Linked DNA regions of Homo sapiens: all the other regions are reported to be linked to region 2. The links are microRNA targets in miRTarBase. Many come from high-throughput screens and were not tested one by one. Region 2 holds a microRNA gene; each other region holds the end of a gene's coding sequence.

Region 1 (7,200 bases), not on the chromosome of region 2:
CTGGGTCTCCCCATCCTGCTGCCTTTCTCCCCACCCCACCCTATTTCTTGCTGGCTTCACCTGCTTTCTCCTTGTGGGAGTAGAAATGGCCCTAGCAGCTCCCAAGTTCTATCCCACCAGCTTAGCCTCCCCCAGCAGAAGCTTTTAAACAGTAACAACAAAAATCCCAAGGAAGGGTGTCATTGGTCCATTCTGGACTGCATGCCCACCCTATGAGCCAGTTTCCCTTTGCTGATTGGCCAGGCTTGGGTCACGTGCTTGGTCTTAGAACTAGATATGGGCTCAACCCAACCAGACCAATGTAAGAGTGAGAGGAGCAGTCTTTCTCCAGGAGAAGATAGCTGACCCTGAGGCCCTGAGCAAGTCTTTTACCCAGTACCTCAGTTTCCTCCTGAATAAAGAAGAGGATGGCTTCTATTCTGGGAGTTTGATTCTAGCTTCCCCAGGTAGCCCAAGGTGGAAGGATCAGGATAAGGGTGGGTCTCTGGCTGGATGGCATTTGTATCCTGCATCTAAGCGCCCCTTTCCCTAACCCTGGCCTTCTGCCTTCTGTTCCCTCATGAACACCCTTGGTCACCTGCTCACCACCCTTCCACTCCCTACAGGTCGGTGGATTTCCTCCTGGACTCCAGCCTGCGCAAGCTCTACCCAACAGTGGGGAAGCCCAGCTCCTCCTGATCATACTCTGGTACCTGGCCTGTGCATCGGCCTCCTGCTTCATGTCAACCTCCTACTCCTGCCAGGGAATGTGGACACCTGGCTCCCTGGTGTCCAAAGACCCTGGCACCTGGGTGGGTTTGAGCTGGACAGAAGCTTAGAGACAAAGGCTTCAAGAAGCAGTGGCTGCAGGGAGTCACAGAAGGGCAGGACCTGAACGCTGTCTGCTTCCCTGGAATCCAAGATGCTGAGTGGAAGTGGACCCTGGGTGGGCCCGGCCCTGTCTTTTTCAGGAAAATTACATCCTCCCATGGAGGATGAGAGACTGAGGCTCAGGGAGGGCAAGGAATAGGCCCAAGATCACTTGGCAAGCTGGGCACCCAGGACCCCCAGGTGCTTGACAGAGTCACCCCATGGTGGTATGGCTGAACAAGGAGCGGCAGACAACTCAGGGAGAAACTCAGGAGTGCAGTACCAGGGACACCTCAGGACAGATTCTCTGGCCAGGCCCTTCCCTGACCCAATAAATCCTGAAGAGGTTGTTATGTCTTCATTTCTGTTTGGGAGGAGCAGGGATGTGGTGGTGGGGAGGAGGGATGGGTAGCAGTCTCCCCGCCCATTAGTGCTTCCCTGCAGGTGCCTGGCATCCCACGTTGGTGCTGCCAGCCTCCTTTGGGGTAGGCATTACCCTTTACTTACTTACTTTTAATAGAGATGGGGGTCTCCCTATGTTGCCCAGGCTGGCCTTGAATGCCTGGGCTCAAGCAATCCTCCCACCTCAGCATCCCAAACTGCTGGGATTATAGGAATGAGCCACTGCACTCAGCCTGGCATTGCCCTCTTTTTCTAGCCTCCTAAAGCACCAACCCCTCTGGGAGGGGAGCCTGTTGGGCAGATACCACCTGAGCCTGAAGGTGGCCAAGATGGTGGTGTCAGCCCCATATGAGGGTCACATGAGACCTCCTCATGAGGGGACTCGGCAGCCTGGAGAAGGAAGTGACCAGGGGGCTTCTTACACTCAGAATCAGGGAATGGCCTGTTTTCCTTGTGGCTTCCCCTGAGCTGCTGGGCTCGAGAGTGCTAGAGGGGGCCATTCCTCTGATCCTGGGCCATCCCCCTCAACAGCTCAGAGAGGTAGAGAGGTGGGAGCACAGGGCTGAAGCAGACCTGGGCCCCTCTCAGCCCTGCCCCAAGCACCAAATCAGCTCCCACCAAGACCCTGGCCCCATCCCTTGCAGCCCAGGTGCAGTCAGGTAGGCTGACCCTGTCCTGGTGGGACTCACCTGCACCTGGGCTGGGACTTAAAGGGGCTGCAGGGCTGGGTAGGGGTGCTGCCAGCAAGACAGGATGGGGGCTCCGGGGTGGTGGCCCCTGCTGCTCTGGGGGTATCCATGGCTACAGGATGAGTCTGATGTGGGCTGAGCCTTTCTCTGCTACTCTTATTGTCCCACACTGGCAAGGTCCCCTTCCCAAGCCCCTATGGCCTCTGCCCAGTCACCTGTCACTCCCTCCCAGCTCCCTTAAAGGCTTTAAGCCCCGCCTTGTTCTCTAGCCCCCGACCCCACCCCCCATTCCCTGTCTGAGCTGGCACTCACATCCTTCTCCAGCCCAGCATTTTCCCAGCTCATCTTCTCCCCCGGCAGTCACAGCCCCATGCGGGGTACATTCACACCTGCATCCCTGTGACATCTCCTGGCATCTACCACCAATTCCTTGCTCACTCACTCTCCACTTTCCACTCTGCAGGCTCTCCCTCAAGCTGGGATCTGTGCAGGCCACATATAGGCTTTGTGCTCATGGGCCTAAGCGCCCAGCCTTGTCCTTCTCCCCATCACCTGCCCTCCTGTGCCTCTATGCCTTTCCTCACAACACACTGTTCCTCAGCTGCAAATCCTTTTCCTCTTGGCCAGCTATGAGCACCCTTCAGAACCAGCTCCAGTGCCCCTTCTGTTGTTGCCCCTTACTATGCCTTACTGTGGGCCACCTCTGCCCTTGACTGCCCCGTTGGTGGTAACTTGTGAGGAAATACCGGGGTGCAAGTTTGCAGATGCCTGGCACATAGTAGGTGCTCACAGAAGGGGCTTTGAGGCACTCCCAGGCCAGGCTGATAGGGATGAGGTCGGTGGACATCCTGTCTGTAGGGGGAAACACCACCATCTCCACAACCCCCCAACATTTTACCCTGCTCCATTTATTATTATTATTATCATTTTGAGACTGAGTCTCGCTCTGTCACCCAGGCTGGAGTGCAGTGGCACAAACTTGTCTTACTGCAACCTCTGCCTCCCGGGTTCAAGCAGTTCTCCTGCCTCAGTGTCCCAAGTAGCTGGGACTAGAGGTGCATGCCACCATGTCCAGCTAATTTTTGTATTTTTAGTAGAGACGGGGTTTCACCATGTTGGCCAGGCTGGTCTTAAATTCCTGACCTCAACTGATCTGCCCACCTTAGCCTCCCAAAATGCGGGGATTGCAAGCGTGAGTCACTGTGCCCAGCTCCCTGCTCCATTCTGGAGATGCAGGGAATTAATTGAAGGTGGGGGATGCTGGGGGAGGTTTTTGGGCACCCTCTGCTGGCCATGTTCTCGCTGAGTCTGGTTCTCCGCCTGAGCTAGCCTGGGCTGGATTGCCAGGAGACAGCCTCCTGCAGGACTGTAATCAGACAGATGTCCTCCTGGCAGTGAGGAAGGAGCCCCAGGTGGATGCTTGCCACCTGTGCCTTGGCACCTGCCTGCCCTCCCCAGTCCCTGCCATACCTGGCTATGAGGTCTTCACTGCCCCATTCAAAGCTTATGGCTTCATCCAACTGGTGAGGGGGCTGTTGGAGGCTCACGAGGACAAGGCTGCCAAGAGCCAGGGAGTACCCGGGAGATTCGGGGGAGAAGAGCTGGGGTGTCTGGGCTGGAAAGAAGGGTAGAATCAGATCATACTGATTTGCAAGTCACAGCCTCTCCGAGTGTGAGTTTTTCTCTCAAAGATGCAGAGCCCTGTATCTCTGCAGAATTCAGTAGCTAAGGATTTGATGCAGATTTGCCATTTAGCATCTGTGTGTTTGTACGTGCCCTTTACGTGCATTTGTTTCTTGCATCCTCAACAGCCCCGTGAGGAGATAAAACCATCATTCCCATATTCCACATGAAGACACTGAGGCTCACAGAAGGGAAGACCCCACTGTCTACCACCAGATGCAACTCAGCACATCATTCTTCAAAGCAGAATTGGCTTTTTTTTTCCTTGAGACAGGGTCTCGCTCTGTTGCCCAGGCTGGAGTGCAGCGGTGCAATTATGGCTTACTGTAGTCTTTACCTCTCAGGCTCAAGTGATTCTCACATCTCAGCCTCCCAAGTAGCTGGGACCACAGGCGTGTGCCTGGATAATTTTTTGATTTTTTTTTTTTTTTTTTTTTTTTTGCAGAGACTAGATCTCGCTATGTTGCCTAGGCTGGTCTCCAGCTCCTGGGCTCAAGCGATCCTCCCACCTCGGCCTTCCAAAGTGCTGGGATTACAGGTGTGAGCCACCGAGCCCTGCCAGAATAGGCATTTAAGCAAGACAGGGACCTCGAATGAGGCCTAGCAGGAAATTGAGGCCCAGACAGGGCAAGTGACTTCAAGACCACCCAGTGAGGTGGGGGCCCAAGCTGGGAGTAGACCTTTCCTGCCTTTTCCCACCATCCTAAGGAGCAAGTATCCTCGCAGATCTCAGGAAAGATAGTGGAATTATTTGCTGACCTGGTCTATGCACCACCACCCAGTTCAGAGCAGCCCTGCAGTGCTGCCTCCCGCCATTGGGTCAGCAGTGTGGTCAAGGCGTGAGCAATGCCTAGCACCCCTAAGCCTGTCTAGGGCCCTGCCACCTGGAGGTCTGCAGGAAGAGGGAATGGTAGGTTGGATGGGGGCTGCCCCTCCAGAAAGGGGCCACCAGGCGCTGACCTCCTGGCCCCCACTTGGTGTGAGCCTGGGGCAGGGCTGGAAATGCTCACCTGGGGGTTGGAATTTGGAATTCCTGGCCTTTTCCCTCCTGTTCTTCCTCCTCATGGGCTGCCCTGGGGGACTTGGCATGGGCCTTTAGTGTTTGTTTTCTGGGCCCCCTCACATGCCAGAGTTGCAATGTTCCCCGCCCCCCCCTTATTTCCCTGCCAGCCCAGGAGCTCCCATCTCACCTCCCACCTCCTTGGTCACTGACTCTCTGGCTGCGTTTGGAAATCTGGACTTCAGCATGAGACTTTGGCCTGGTTCTTTGCCTCCCACAGGTGGGGGACATTGGCTGGGCTGAAGTAATGTCCCAAGAGGAAGGTCTTCTAGCTCAGGGACTCCTGTGCCTCCAGTTCTGGGCCAGGTTACCCCTGGAGAAATAAGGAAGTGAGGGAGGACCAGTAACAGAGTGTGAGGGCACTGGGCTTCTGGCCACCTGGCCCTAGCTTTTCCTGCTTCTCCTCTTGCTGTGTGGCCTCAGGCAAACCCTTCAGCATCTCTGGGTCTCGTGTCTTCCCCATCTTGGTTTCATTCCACCTCAGGGTGGGGCCATACTGGAGGATCCAGACCCCACCAACACCAGCACCATTTTCCTGGGCTCTGAGCTCCACATGGAGTTTGCTGTGGTTGGCAGCTCCCATTAGCCTTTACAGGTATATGTGGACGAGTGTGTGATCAGCCCCAGCCAGGATATGGAAGTGGCCCCTGCACACTACAGCCTTGTCAGGAATCATGGGTACTGAACCTGGAGGAGGAGGATAGGGTAGGATGGGTACAATTCAGTGGGTGATATCTCTGGGGAGGCTGGGACAGGGGCTGAGAGCCTTCCAGGGCTGGAAGGCACGGATGCCCAGATAGTGCTCCCTGGGCGTTCTTGAGTAGTCCTTTCTAGGCCAGGGGAGCAAGAATGCTTTACTGGCCCTTTCACCTCTGGAGCCTCTGTTTGCCCTTCTGTGAAATGGGGATAGTGCCAGAATCTTCAAAGCCTGCTGTGTAGACTGAATGGGGTGACGCTTAGCTCAGTGCTTGGCATGCAGAATTCTCAACAAATGATGGTGTATGGTGGTGTTGGGGCTAGGACCAGATCCCAGTTCAGGGGTCTGACCCTGATGACCTTCCAACCTGTGCCTTCCAGGTGCCTGGTGAACGGCAAGAACTTCCACTCCCACTTCGTGCCCCAAGAGGTCCCCAAGAGACTGGAGCTCTCCTTCCAGGCCTTCAGCTTTACTGGTACTCCTGCTGATGTGAGTGGAAACAGATAACCCCCTCCCCACTCTGCCACCCCGTAGGAACAGAGACCCAAGCTGAGGAATCTTTGGAAGTTACGGGGTGCACCACAAGCTGTTGCTCTGGAATCTAAAGGTCCCATCTGATGCTACCAAGAAGGCCTGTTCCTTCCACAGGGGCACTCATGGTGAGTCATGTTCACCAAAGGTGTACTGCATGCCTTACCCTGTAACTGGCATTTGAGGTACATGACCTCACTTAATTGTGTGGGAGGTGAGGAAACTGAGGCTCAAAATAGCTCAGATTGAATTTCTGCAATAGTTCCCCATGCTTGGCTGGACCACAAGCCCAACTGCTTTGGCCTAGAGTGGGCAGTGTGAGGTATACTGGGAATGGAGGCTTTGGACTGTGACCTAGACCCAGGTTCAAATCCCAGCTCCAGCTCTTGCTGGCTGTGACATCATGGGCAAGTCACTGACCTTTTGTTAGCCTCTGTTTCTTTGCTTGTTAAATGCAGGTCTGGTCCATGCCACCCCTAGCTCCCATCTCTGGTGCACTGACCACCTCCATCCCTCACCTCTAGGTAAGAACTTCTGGATGCCTCCCTGGGAGTATGAGTGACAGTTGTGAGATTACCTGCCTGGCCCCCTGATTACCCTATCAAAGGTCCTTGGCAGGTAGGAGGCCCCTGTTTTGGGTGTGGAGGGTGGAGGTAGGCTCTGAGGCAAGGGAGGCAGCTGGCCCGGGGAATCAGTCACAGCCTTGCATGAACAGGCTTATAGAAGACATCATCTTGCTACTAAAGGCCTCTGAGGAAACTGACACTGGCCTGGACCACAAAGACCCACTCAAGGTGCCCATTGATCAGAACCAAGGAGGGTCCTGGCTTCTGGATCCTGTCTGGAGAGGCTTCTACTGTGTGGGACCTTGGGCAAATCCTTTCCCTTTCTGGGCCTTGGTTTCCCCAAGTGCAAAATGAGAGCATTAGATTGGCCTGCCACTTTTGAGCCTCTCATGTAATCTTTATTAAACAGATATCTGGAGACCCCTTCACCTCCACCCACATAACCCTTGATATATGCCCTTCTGAGAGTTTCATAGAGGAGAGAGAAGGCTTGTAGTCACTCACACCATAGTATAAACAACATGTTATCTTTTCTGTCCTTGGAAAAAAAATAGCTTCATATTCTCTCAACTTTCAGTATCAGTAAACAAATAGTAGAAGGTCAGAAGTTTATAGCTGTGTGTGTTGGGGGTGTGAGGGGATGTTGTGTTGTGGCTTAAAACTGTCTTTGATGTCTTTGGCTTCCAGATTCCAATCAGGCCTCTGAGAAGGCTTCCCATCAGG
Region 2 (7,200 bases):
AGGGCAGAAATTTATCTTCCTATTTTATTTTGCTTAGGTGAATATTGAAATGATTGTGTATTTTCTGAGCCTCCTCAGATAGGGAGGAGGCAGTCAGAAGTGTGGTGAGGCTAAGCCAGCCTGGAATCAAACATTTTCTACAGACAGAAATCACTAATCAATCTTGTGTTAAATTGCTCAAGAAAATCCATAAAGCAGTTAACATCACCTTGATTATTTATATACACAGATAGTTGAAAGTTGACTAACAAGATTTGGGAACAAAATATACAAAGCAGCTGATGCCCATCATGAAAAGGTGCACATAAAATCCACACCATAATCCAGGATGACAATTTCTAAACTCATACCTTGTGTTCAGCCATCTATTAAAACCTTGAGAATGATAATATTTGTTTTATATTTTAATTCTGTATCTAGTCCCAAATGAATCATCATTGACTACTCTCCCTCACCCAACATTATGTAAACATATAATAAATGGAGTTGTGGTTGTGGATAATCTTAGGAACAGACATTCAAATAAACAGGCATATAATTCTTATTTAAAAGTAAACTGGCCATCTATGCAAAATCCAAATACAATTTGTATCAGAAAAATTATAGGGTTGGGGTGTGTTTATATGATAAGAGAGAGAGGAGGGGGACCATTTTAGTCTATGTTTTCAAGGCTTTACACTTCACTCAACATAACTGCAGCTGAAACTTTAGTTTTTCTAAAGTCATGGTGGGGAATTCCTTACAGAAAGTCTCACAGCATCTTCTTTTGTGATTCACCTGTATCTCTGGTATTCTTTGTCATCTGATCATCTACTAGTCTAAATTAGGTTTCATTCAGCACACCTCCAAGGCTGTTCTGACAAACAGGCAGCTGCCACTACAGCATCTTCTTAAATGGCTCCATAAATGAAGTAAAGAGTATGGCTGTTCCAGTGGCCTGTTTTGGCTCAATGGTACAATCTTCCAGCTGGTGAATTCCCCAGTAAGTAAGCACTACAAGAACAATTTGTTTGATTGATGCAATGAAGCCTGAAAATTGCTATGGCACAAAGCTGCCTCCAGATTGGGAGGAAACTTTGGCTAGCACAGTCCCTTGAAGACATAAATGTTAAAGGCCATCTAACATTTTGTTTTGGCTAGGGCCCTCGAAAAGCTCAAAGTTACTTCAAATTATTAGTCAGGTCGGAAATGTTATATTCAATACATGTACGAGTCTTTAAAAGACCAATCATTCCTTTGTTTCAGTGAAATTATTTAAGTGATTTTAGGAGATAAAATTCAGAAAAGCGATCAGCTGAAAAAGGGAAGTTGTTACAAGAAAGATCATTTGCTCATTGATCTTCAAACACTAGTTTGCATGTGTGAGAGAGAGAGAGAGAGAGAGAAAAGGGAAATGAATTAATTTAAAAAATTAACTTAACAAAAAAATATTCCACAGATGGCTAGTTATAGAACACTTGGCAGTTAGAAAATGCCAAGAGGGTTTCCCACATAAGGCTGAGAAAAAAATGAGTTTATTTCTTTTTAAAAGAAGCAGTGGCAGAAGGACCAAGAAACAGAAGAAAAAAGATAGAGATGGAAAATCTGAACCTCCCTCTACCAATAGCCAACAATGGTCTGATTACAAGAATTTAGGAAACATACTACTTATTTTGGCTCAAAGAAGTCCAAAGGAAGTTCCCTTCTCATCCTTTTCCACCTTCCTCACCACTGCTCCATTCAATTTTATACCTATGTTGTTTTTAAACTCAGTATGCACTGACCTTAATACTCAAGGGTATGCTCGGTCCAATGAGCTCTCTGGAAGTGAGGGAACACAACCAAGATCTTTGTTTGTAGGAAAGGGGTTCTCAGTGACCTAGAGTTTGCTCCTTTAGTCCCTTCATAGTCTTCTACCCTGGAGAGTAGATTATATCCCAGTTTCCAGAGATCACCCCAAAACAAGATCCAGGTCTCACTTAAACCTAAGATTCCTCCACTCAAAACTAATTTGAAGGAACAAAGTGAGGCTGTCTGCTTCTCCTTGAACCTGTGAGGCCTTAGAATCTGTGTCAATTCTTCTTCAAGTATCATAGGGATTCCACGGCTACCTGGGGTTCAGCTCGAGCCAAGGCTCTAATGATCTCAATTTATTATTGATTTGACTGTGTAATTAAGTTACTTTAATCCTTGTGCACTGAACAACCAGTGTCCTTACTGCAAGTGTTCCTGACTGGATAGAGGAGATAGTAGGGGAGCTGTTTCCTGTGCCTTTTAAGCAGACACAGGCAAAATAATTTTGGAAGATTTTGTAAACACTTAGAATATGTGTATCTGCAATATATCTTTCTGGCTGGGCCTTTGGAAATATATCAAAAGCGTCTAGCGTACTTTAGTTAATGCCTAAGCATTAACTCTGAACACAGGGATAATATTAAAAGCATTTCATTCGTATTTATGAAAAACATGTAGATTTTTTGCAGTAGATTATATTTCAGTATTCTGTAAGTGCTTGTCAGATGAAGGCAGTTTAACTGAGATGTAGTGGCACTTAATTTTTGAAAAGAAAAGAGAAAGCCCCTACCCTCATGTAAAACTAGTGACAAAAGTGTGTGCCTGACCACTTTTTAAAAGAGCACAAGGATAAGACAGGGCAGCAAAAGGTGCTATTTTAAAGTAAAAAAGAATAGCAATCTGCTATAAAGAGAAAAAAAAGAAAGCAGGGAGCAATAATGCCATCAACTAAATTAGGGCTGACACAGGGCTGGGAGGTACATAATCATCTGTTTCTCAGATACTCAGATGAGAAGTGAAACCATTCCCAGTGTTTTCAAAAATTTTAACATGTATGCTATCACTAAGATGTTTTCATAGGGAGTTTTTGTCCTATGATTTAATTCCCTGGCATTTACATTGTATTTCTTCAATTGTCTACATTTTGAAATCAAAATGTTCAAATGCTGAATGATGGTAGTCTAGACTCTCTAAACTGTCCAACAAAAGACATGGATTTTCTTCTTCCTGAGAAAAGTCTGAGTTGCTATATTATCTCATAAGCCTCATCAATAAGGATCCAATATCTGAGAGTTTTTTCTACATATAATACACTGTGTATTTGCATTCCTGAAAAGAAAAAAATGTGTTTTTATTGTTAAAATCTAGCCATATTCAGTTGTCAGCTAATGAGGAAATTCATGAGAAAGCTACATTCTCCTAAGGTATGATCCAAAAAGTACGTATGACAATAATTGAATAAGAGGTGCTAGAAAGAAGCACTTAAAGAAAGTGAAGTTGGGACATGGCAAAGTGTACTGGAAAGAGTATTGGTTAGGAGTCACAAGACTTGCTTTCTAATTCCAAATTCCAATGTTGTCAATTATTTATTAGCTACGTGTCTTTTGGAAAACCACTTCATCTTTCTGGACATAAGTTTCCTTATCTATAAGGACAGAATAATAAGCCCTTCTCTATCTCACAAGGTGTAGCAGGGATCAAATGAGGAAATAAAGATGAAAATACTATAAATTTTAAAGTGTTAGATATAGGTCTATTTCAATTATCATATATGAACAGAATACAGAAACATATACAACTTATAAATAAAAGATCATTATTCCATTTCCTAACACTTTTTTAAGAATTCAAGTGCCTGATCTAGACATAAAGGTTGTACACATTTAGGTGTGAACAGTTCCTTGTTCCCAAAAACAAAAACAAATAAACAGAGAACAAACTAAATAGATTATTACTATTCAACCACTAAAATGTAGATTAAGAATAATATTTTAATATATAGAGGAATAGTCATAATAACGAGTAAACAGCAGGTTTGAAACATGGTATGCATAGTTATTCCAAATGTACATATATATCTTTATGTAATATATATGTATTTTATATATGTACACATATATGTGTATACATATATTATGCTATATCATATATTAGGTTATATATGTATATTATGTATTTATACATATATATAAAATACGTATATATTACATGAAGATATATATGTATATTTGGAATATATGTATACATATATAATATACATATATATTACATAAAAATGTATATTTGGAATATATGTATATATATAGAGAGAGAGAGAGAAAGAAAGACAAAGACAGAGAGAGAGAGATATACACGAATTCCAGCTAGCCACTACAAGGATCTATAACAGAACATTAATATTGGTTTTCTCTTGGTTGGGGGACTTTGTAGATACCTTTTTGTATTTTCCAATTTTTCTGCAAAGAACATATATTACATTGGTAAACAGAAAATAAACATACACAAAATAACTGTTCAGAAAGAAAAGCTCAATTAGAAACTTAACATTCTTACTGAACCTGACTATAAGAGAGTTACAAAGACATTTCAATAACTACTAAAGAGACTTATCAGGATTGAGTTTCTTCATAGAAGAGGATCAGTTGAATTTTCATGAAGCATTGGGGTGGTGGGGTAAGATTCCAGGTGAAATGGCTTTGAAGTTGAGTTCCAGTCAACATTTGCCATACGGTGGTAGTCTGTGCCCTCTGTATGGGAAACCCTGCCCTGCACTCCCTTCAGTAAGAATACAGATAGAGTGCAGACCAGGGTCTCCCAACAGCAGCTGATTCAACATTCCACTCCATATTTTCTGTCTTCTGTTGTGATTCTATGTGGGAAATGGATGGCTCGTTGAGTTACCTTTTCCTTTTGAGTTATTCCACTTCAGTGATGGACACTAACTGATGAGGGTAGACTGTGGCCTTGTGGATCAGTTCGTCCCCTGTAAACAGCTGTACTTTTGGACTTTACATAAATTTTTCTTAGTCTTAAAAAAAATGACAATTTAATATATGATAGGATTTCCATAGTCTTCCAAGAATTATAGGCTTATATATATTGGCCTGAAGGCAGCATGTTATTATATGGACTGTAACGGCAAATAATATGAAGCATTTGTTAACTTAATGAACTTAACACTGTAAAATGCTGTGCATGTATTATCATTCCATTTAATCCTCTTAAGAACCCTATGAGGTCTATACTACTATTACCTCCATTTTATAGATGAGGAAACTAAAGGACAGATGGATTAATAATTCCTTTGCCCCAAATCATAAACCTTATAAGCATTTGAATTGTGTTTCAAATCCATGTAATGTCAGAGCCCTCCCTCTTAACCACTACAGGCATTTTAAAGGCAGATATTATGTATCATTTATTATGATGCTGCAGCCTGCTTAAAATCAGGATAGCAAAAGGTTGTTGCCACAGGGTAAAAAGGGGAAGAAGTGGGGGAGGGTAGTGTGTTCTATTTCAGAGATAGAGACAATGACTCCATTGTTGGTTATTTTGAGTTTAAAGAGCCATTAGTGATAGGTTAATGTGCAGCAGCCATTTGTATATATAAGCCTGGCTCTCAAGATGAAAGGTGTCTGCATATGGATGGTAACTGAAACCACAAGAATACATTTAATAATCTAGAGAACACAAGCAGAATACAAGACAACTACTGAGGCTGGAAACTGGGGGTGGGGAGGACATCAAACATTTCAGAAAAGACGAGGGAAGTGTAAAAATTAAAAGAAAAATAGTGATGGTGTAGAACAGAGAAAAAGCAGTGTTGTGAAAGCCCACAGAAGAGATGGTTTCAATGAAAAAGTTGACCAACCTGGTCAAGTGCTGTAGAAAGGAGAAATAAGGTAAGGACTGAAGGGAGAAATGGATTTTAGTTGGCAGTCACTAGCGACATTAGCAGGAGGAGTTCATGGATGGCAATGTGGGCAGAAGATAGAATGCGGAGGGCTGAATAATTAAGAATTAGATGAGAAAATAAAAGCAAAGGTGAAGCTGAATAATTTAAAAATAGGCGAGAAAATGAAGAAAGCTCTTGCCTATCAAAGGAAAGAGACAGTCTGAAAGAGAAACTTAGGAGGGACTTTTTAGGATGAGAAGTCTTGAAATGATCTGTATGCCAGTGGAAAAAAGGTAGTAGTCCAGGAGGTAGTGAAGGTACAGGACAAAGGATAATTGATGTATCTAGGTCCCCATGGCTTTGGGAAGAGATAAAATAAATGGAAAAAGAAGAGGAACTTTTCTTTTGGGAGATGGTTGTTGAACTGAATGGCTTTTAAGGCCCTTCACAATACTGATGCAATTTCATAAAGGATGGAAAAATCCTACAGTTATTGTAGTGAGTTCTGGAAAACTAGACAGAGGATGTACTCCAGTGGTATCAGGCTGGCAATACATGGCACAAAACAATGTTACAAGGCTCCAGTGTACTTCAGACAACTACCAATAACCCCTGTGCCTGATGCTAAACCCAGACTTTTTTCAACAAATAACTGTCTCTTTTCCTTTCTTGTCTGGCTTCTTTTAAATGCTAAGTTTGAAATGTGATACCTTTGCATGAAAGCGGCATGCAGTCTACATGTCAGTTGATAAGAGTATACTGGAAATATTTCACTTTAATAATGTGGATAGGATCCTTCTGCCTCTCCCCTTCTCCCCTGGCCCCCACACCTTGTTCTTAATATCTCTGGATTCCATCTCTTCCCTAAAATACCTTTAGGATTTCTCCTATGTGCATAACAAATAACAGCATTATTTACATTTTAGCACTTCTTCTAAGACGTTTCCAGGTGCTAGATACAAGCTGTAGAAGAGCTTGCATTTTTTCCTTTAGATCTAAATAGTCTGAATCTCAGTATTGCTCATGGGAAACTGTTTCAAAGGCTGAAGTGTCAGAAGCAGAAAGGAAAGAAATGAGTGGGTGGGAAGTTCTACATGCAAACCTGTCACACTCTTCTTTCATTTTCAGACCTGAATATGCATGGATGCAGAAATTATAGCTTATTCCAAAGTTTTTATTGTCAGCATCAAATTTAACAAAAAAACGTCAAGAATATCAGATTGGTATATTTAGGTGAAAATGTTCAACAGACTTCATCTTTAACACAAATAGTCCTATCCGTTAATAAGCCCTTTAATTCCCTTTGAATACACTTCAAGAGAGGGCTCCAGGCAAAGTACACAGTAAAATCTCATTTATTCCAATTTCGCTACTTTGAAATTTACAATAATTTAAAAACAGAATAGGGAAGAAACTTGATTTTGTTTAGAGATCCCTTTATACGTATAGAACAAAATAATGACACTGAGAAAGAAACTTTAAAAATACTTGCAAGTCAAATTATAAAGATGATGCATGCATAAGAATGTTTA
Region 3 (7,200 bases), not on the chromosome of region 2:
CAGAATCTACTTCCCACCACTCCCATTACCACCCTAGTCCAAGCCCTTGGGCTCACCTAGAATATTGCCATAATCTAATTTTCACAGTTGGCTTCCCAAGTTTTTTTTTTTTAATTAGTGTGATATGATCTAATATTGCAGCTTAAGCAATATTAGATCATGTCACACTAATTAAAAAAATCTGCAAGTTCTTCTCATTCTCCTCAGAATAAAACTCAAAGTTCATATCATGGCTTTAATGATCTTAATTCCTGCTATCTCTTTGAACTCATAACCCTCTGCTGACCCTAGCTTATTTTCATTACATCTCTTAACCCTGTTTTAATATTTAGCACCATCTGACATATATATGAGATATATATGTAAATATATATATATATTTACGCATGGTGGCTCATACCTGTAATCCCAGCACTTTGGGGAGACTGAGGCGGATGGATCACGAGGTCAGGAGATCAAGACCATCCTGGCCAACATGGTGAAACCCTATCTCTACTAAAAGCCGAGATGGTGTATATATACATAATATATACATTATATATATATTATATATGTATTATATAACATATATATAATACATATATAATAGATGTTATATATAACACGTTATTATATATATTATATATATAACGTGTGTGTGTGTATGTGTGTGTATGTATATATATATGAAGTGTTTATTGTGTCTCCCCTCCACTAGAGTCTAAGCTTTATTAAAGCAGGGTCTGATTTTGTTTGCTGTTGTACTCCCAGTGCCTAAGACTGCCTGGCACATAGCAGGTGCTCAATAAATACTTGCAGTTGATCAGACAATTAAAAAAACAAAAGCTAGCAAAAGCTCTGTATAAGGATATAATAGAGAGAAAAATAAATGGCAGATGAAAAACACTCTCCAGAAAAATACTGCTTCAAATATTTGAAAATTATGATTAAATATTTTACAATGACTTTAATATCTTAATTAAAGATTCATCTCTACAAGAACATACATCAGAAATAGAAGATAAGGCCAGGCACAGTGGTTCATGCCTGTAATCTCAGCACTTTGGGAGGCCGAGGCAGGCAGATCACTTGAGGCCAGGAGTTTGAGACCAGCCTGGCCAACATGGAGAAACCCCATCTCTACTAGTAATACAAAAATTAGCCGGGTGTGGTGGCATGCGCCTGTAATCCCAGCCACTTGGGAGGCTGAAGCAGGAGAGTCACTTGCACCTGGGAGGCAGAGGTTGCAGTGACCCGAGATGGTGCCACTGCCCTCCAGCCTGAGTGACAAGAGTGAAACTGTGTCTCGAAAAGAAAAAAGGAAGATACAATGAAATGACAAAGAGTGAAATGTGAGCTGGCAGAACTCAGGAAATCAAAAATAACCGCAAAAATGAAAGTGGGAATGATGGGGTATACAGTGTTTGAATCATGATAAGGGAAATAAGGAAGAGGAATCATAAAGAAAAATAACATAGAGATAGGAAATGACACATGCACATAACTGGAGTTCCTAAAGTAGAAAACGTCCGTCCATTTTCTATTTTTATAGATGAAAGCACTGAGAAACTTTGCTCACATGATAAAAAGTCAATAATAGGTTTTAGGAATGTCAATCTTCTGAACTCTTAGGCCAAAAATCATAGTGATCTTGCATCAAAATTTATTTTTAATAAATTAGCTGACAATTCACTTGTCTGCTAGTTTCATTGAGGGCATCTGACAGATGACAGAAACCATCTGACTTGCAAAGGGAGTCATTCAGGCCTCAACATAAACATGAATGTTTCAAATTGTCCCTTTGTTTGGACCCATGAAATATTTTATTCCCTGGGACAATTAAACACAGTAGGTCTGGCATGGCTGAGAGGTATTGCCTTTCCTCTAGTGGGAGAAAGGCTGTGAAATAAGAGGTAGTTGTCTTAAGGCAGATCAATTTAGGAACAAATACATATGGATGTACAGGATTGGGAAATTATCTACCGAACCCCTTCATGTACTAAGCACGTACATCCTACTGGTTAACAATGCTAAGTACTGCTAACAGGTCAAGGGAAGAATTTACAAGTACTTATGTTTTAGGAAAATGTCAATAATTGATTTGATTAAAGTTTTCAGTGCTCTTGTGTCTAGGGTGGGTAGGAGCCACACTGGAGTGGATTGAGGAGGGAGGGGATGGAAGTAAGAAATAGAGGCAGTAATAGAAAAGTTACTAAAATTAGATATAGATGAGAGAATTACACCAAACATAGGTGGTACCTAGGAGCAACTTGCTTAAAAAGATATGAAATACTTGAACAAATGCCAAAAGAAAAGGGTCACAGATTAAGGGGGAGGTTGAAGACTCAAGGGAAGATAATAAGCACTACATTCACAAGGTTTAAAAGATTCAACAGTAGGCTGGGTGTGGTGGTTCACAACTGTAATCCCAACATTTTGGGAGGCTGAGGCAGGAGGATTGCTTGAGACCAGGAGTTCAAGACCAGCCTGGGCAACATAGCCAGTCTCTACAAATTAATTAAAAAATTAGCCAGGTGTGGTGGCACACACCTGTGGTCCCAGCTACTCAGGAGGCTGAGGTGGGAGGGGCTTGAGCCCGTTGAAGTTAAAGCTGCAGTGAGCCATGACCATGATCATGCTGCTGAACTCCAGCTTGGGTGACAGAGCAGGACCCCATCTCGGGGCGGCAGAGGGGGTGGTGGGAACCAGGAGCCAGCACTTACTGATCACTTATCTATGCACTAAGCTTTTTGTTCATTTTACCTAAGTCTCACAATAACTAACTATGCAAAGGGGGTTACTGTTACTATCCTCATTTTACTTACCCAGAAAGGAGACCCAGAGAGATCAACTTATGCTCAAGGTCACCGAGTTTAGCCCTGTGGTAGAGTTGGGATGTCACAACCTAGAGCACAGAATCTTGTCCATGGCTGTGGATTTAGTAAGTGAAGTTCAGGGAATTTGTGCCTGAAGGTCTCTATTTTTATGTAAGATAGAAGGCAAGGACATGTTAAGAGTGAAGGAAAAAAAGAGGGTAACAAGTTTCAGAGTATAAGTTTTACATAGTAAGAATGGAGAACCGACTAGAGAAAATAAGGGTAATGGGCAGTGCTGAGGTCAGTTAAAACCAATTTTTACTAATACGGATTTATACATTTGGTGATCTTTCTCCAGAAATAACTGGTGAGGGTAGGAGGGCTTGGATACATCTAGGGCTGGGAATTTTCCAGGAAGTCGTTTGGGTTAACAATCATGATACTGAATTGATAGATCAGGAAGCCTAGATAGGACTTACAGAGGTGGAAACAGACTACGCCCTAACACAGAGCAGGTATAAAGGAGGAGGAGTTGGTTAGAAGTGAATACTTTTATTGAGTGATTTTAGAAGTTGTTTTCGGATATTCCAAGTATTTAGGATGTGGCTGTGGTGGAAACAAGTAATGGAACCAAAGCCCTGTGTGTAAGTAGTCACTGAAGCTAACCAGGTAGCTGAAATTTATTTCCCCCAAATTTACTGAAAGAATGTGACCTTTGTGCTCTCAAACTGTGGTTCAGGCACTCCAGAATTTTTTTCTGTACCTTCAATTCTCTCAGATTTAAAAAATTATACTAGAGAAGAGGACTTTTGCCTATGAATACAAACAACATTGCAATCTGCATCTGCAAACATTCTTTTCAATAGACGGTTAGGTCATGGATACAAGTAAACACTTGGATATAAGGCAAACATTTAAAAGTGCATTTCAGGTATTAAGTCATGAATGATATGGAAAAGTTGCCACTAAACTTTCCACTGAATAGTGTTTCACAGCACAAAAATAATCTATTTTCCTGATACTTTTTTAGTATGGATACCAAGACAGCATGACATCAGTTGTCTAATTTTTTTCCAATTTGATTTAAAAAACCCACATGTTCAGGCTTAAAAGATAGCATTATGTTTAATGGGTGCTAGGAAACCAGGCCACATGGACCAACAGACCTAAATTTACTCTAACCCTGAATTTTGTTAGCACCCAATAAATGAATTAATTGAAATCTGGATTTCTCTATACGGAGATGAAGAAAGTCTTTTAGTGTAGTTATTTTAAAACAAGTTGCTCCTATTTCCTTATCAGAAACAAGACCATATCAACAACCCAACATTTAAATAATGAACTGAAAATACTTTTAAAAACCATAAAACTCATCTCTATCCCATTCTTAAGTAAAAATCAGTCTTCACTTTCTACTTAGTTATAAGCAATCCCACAGACATTTGAAAATCAGTGGGCAAACTAAAATTGTTGAATAAAGCCAAACTTTTTCAAACCAAGTATTTGTTAAATGTCATATGTATTGTCTACTATAAAGTGATTCAATATTTTACTATAGAGGATAGCATCTATTTTTCAAAAATGTGAGAAATTAAAAAAATAACAAGGCAACAACTTTGGGGTCTGATACATGAAATAAATATACTGCAAGATAGAGTCTATCAACCAGAAATCACCTGTTCTACTTGTTAAATTTCTCTAACACATTCTAAATTTTTTTTTTTTTTTTTTTTGAGATGGAGTTTTGCTCTTGTTGCCCAGGCTGGAGTGCAATGGGGTGATCTTGGCTCACTGCAACCTCCGCTTCCTGGGTTCAAGTGATTCTCCTGCCTCAGCCTCCTGAGTAGCTGGGATTACAGGCATGCACCACCACGCCCAGCTAATTTTGTATTTTTAGTAGAGATGGGGTTTCTCCATGTTGGTCAGGCTGGTCTCAAACTCCTGACTTCAGGTGATCCAGCCACCTCGGCCTCCCAAAGTGCTGGGATTATAGGTGTGAGCCACCGCACATGGCAACACGTTCTACATTTCAAAGTGACATAAGAATAATTTTTAAAAATTCCAACACTCCAAGGCTGGGCGTGGTGGCTCACGCCTGTAATCCCAGCACTTTGGGAGGCCAAGGTGGGTGGATCACGAGGTCAGGAGATCGAGACGATCCTGGCTAACACCGTGAAACCCCAACTCTACTAAAAATACAAAAAATTAGCCAGGAGTAGTGGCACATGACTGTAGTCCCAACTACTTGGGAGGCTGAGGCAGGAGAATCGCTTGAACCTGGGAGGCAGAGGTTGCAGTTAGCTGAGATCGCGCCACTGCACTCCAGCCTGGGCGACAGAATGAGACTCCGTCTCAAAAAAAAAAAAAAAAAAAAAAAATCCAACACTCCAAATACATCCTTTAAGTATGTAGATGTATAATAGCTCAGCTCACAAACAGGTGTGACTAAAGCCTTTGAACTTGTTACTTATAAACATTAAGAATTTGGACCCCATTATCCAAAGATCCATTTACTAGCTCATAATGCAATTTGTGTTAATCAGCTATACAAATCAACCACCTAATAGCAGTCAGATGATTCTAATCTCACACCAACAGAAACAGCAATAAAATTAGAAAGTAATACTTTTTAGTAATTAATCAATAAAATAGCACTGGGATAAAATGAAGAGAATTTCTTGTTTCAGCTTCTTATCAGTAAGCCTGTTCCTCATTTGTAGATAATGAGGATAAAGGTATCACAGCCAAATATGGGAAACTGCTCTTTATTTAGACCTTTGGGACAAAATTAACTTTGGTCACATATTACTTAAAAAAAAATCCAGTTTTACATATTTCTAAATAGACAGAACTAAATGATCAGAGAATTTCTTCTGTAAAAATTGGCCAAATTTTATCAAAAATCTAACATACGATACAATCCAAATTATAAAAAGACTACTTGGGATCATAATATTCCAAATGTATGACAGTTATAACTCCATCTTAACAAGTGTGAAAAGTACTTGCTCTCATGTTGCTTTGGTCCAAAAGAGTAGAGCTAACTCAGTAACAGGAAACTAAGTACCCAATCTTTTGCCAAAATTAATTTAGATTGTGACTGGCAGCAGAAATATCCATAATGAACAGCTCTACTATAACAAAGAATAATTAAAGAATACTTTTCGTGAACATATCACAGTATCAAATACATTTTTATAAGAGAAAAATATGAAGGAAATGATAAAATAGCTATCACAAACAAAAAGAAGCATTTCCCCCATAAGGTGAATTAGAGGGTTGATGATGCTAATATGAAAGGAAGTTGAGTACTGTATTTATTTCTTATTTTATACAACTCTTACTCTTTACAAAAATGGTTATAGTCATGCCCATAAAAGTGTAACCCATGGCATTTGAAAGCAAACACTCTTTGTAATTATTTAAAAGGGCCTTTTTAAAAATTATAATACAAAGGTCTGTGCTCTATAAGCAGTCCTCCACTGTGCATTGTAACAATAAGGCTTACTTTTAATACAAAGACTAAGCGTTTGGGAGTTATGAACCACTGGATTTAACAAACATCATTTTATAATTGCTTTTTGCATCTTTTTTGTTTTTGGGATCCTCCACTTCATCAGGGTGCTCAGCAGCTTGGAGTTCTTCAGCAGATTCTTCTTTCTCTGACTCTGAATCGCTTTCAGAATCATCTGGACTTTCAGGATCAGGTGAATCATCATCGTCATCATCATCATCTCCAGCCACATCACCTTCTCCATCATGGTCTTCTACCTAAAACATCAATCAACAGGCTCTTTTAAAAATAAACATTAGCCCATACAAAATCTGAGAAAGACCGTAAGTTCTGTCGGTCTTAGAAACACTCTACTTTGTAGCCATTAGAACAACAGCTTTAAGACTTGAGTAGAATTTTAAGAAAGAGCTCTGTCTGGCTGGGCCCAGTGGCTCATACCTGTGGCTGGGATTCCAGCTACTCAAGAGGCTGAGAGGCAGGGGGATTGCTTGAGGCCCAAAGTTTGAGACCAGCCTGGGCAACATAGTGAGACCCTGTCTCTTAAAAAAAAAAAAAAAAAAAAAAAAAAAAAAAAAAAAAAGGGAGAGAGAGAGAGAGAAACTAAAAAAAAAAAAAGAAAAAAGAAAAAAATTAGCCAGGCATGGTGGTGCATGCCTGTAGTTCTAGCTACTCGGGAGGCTGAGGTGGGAGGATTGCTTGAGCCTAGGAGTTCAAGGCTGTAGCGAGCTATGATCATGCCACTACATTCCAGCCTGTGTGACAGAGCAAGACTCCATTTCTTAAAAGACAAAAGAAAACAAGAGGGGAGGTGCTCTGAAGATCACACACCTATCTCCCCTCCCCTAGTTTGAAAACCATGGTATTATATTTTCCTGAAAGAAACAATTTTTT

Evidence for each region. The annotated mature microRNA hsa-miR-504-5p reads AGACCCUGGUCUGCACUCUAUC and lies in region 2 at 4,565-4,586, opposite strand. An mRNA with a match to its seed (bases 2 to 7 or 8) in the 3' UTR can be bound and repressed. Matches are read on the target gene's strand: a 7mer-m8 pairs with bases 2 to 8, a 7mer-A1 pairs with bases 2 to 7 and ends in A, and an 8mer does both.
Region 1: miRTarBase lists MTFP1 as a target of hsa-miR-504-5p. The part of its 3' UTR that is shown has no 7-base or 8-base seed match.
Region 3: the mRNA of C11orf58 is a reported target of hsa-miR-504-5p. The part of its 3' UTR that is shown has no 7-base or 8-base seed match.

What each region holds. Positions count from the first base shown.
Region 1 is chr22:30,427,857-30,435,056 of GRCh38, forward strand. MTFP1 (mitochondrial fission process 1) reads left to right here. Exons shown (of 4, transcript NM_016498.5): 4 at 606-1,198. The coding sequence ends at 678. LOC105372990 (a long non-coding RNA gene) reads left to right here and starts at 4,830. Exons shown (of 4, transcript NR_148046.1): 1 at 4,830-5,388; 2 at 5,761-6,039; 3 at 6,436-6,529; 4 at 7,165-7,200.
Region 2 is chrX:138,663,196-138,670,395 of GRCh38, forward strand. It overlaps MIR504 (microRNA 504), which reads right to left and starts at 4,598; the gene lies at 4,516-4,598. All of the region lies in intron 3 of FGF13 (fibroblast growth factor 13), which reads right to left.
Region 3 is chr11:16,754,237-16,761,436 of GRCh38, reverse strand. C11orf58 (chromosome 11 open reading frame 58) reads right to left here. Exons shown (of 5, transcript NM_014267.6): 5 at 3,097-6,566. The coding sequence ends at 6,333. Among named protein-coding and RNA genes, the nearest start is that of C11orf58, 19 kb to the right of the region's middle.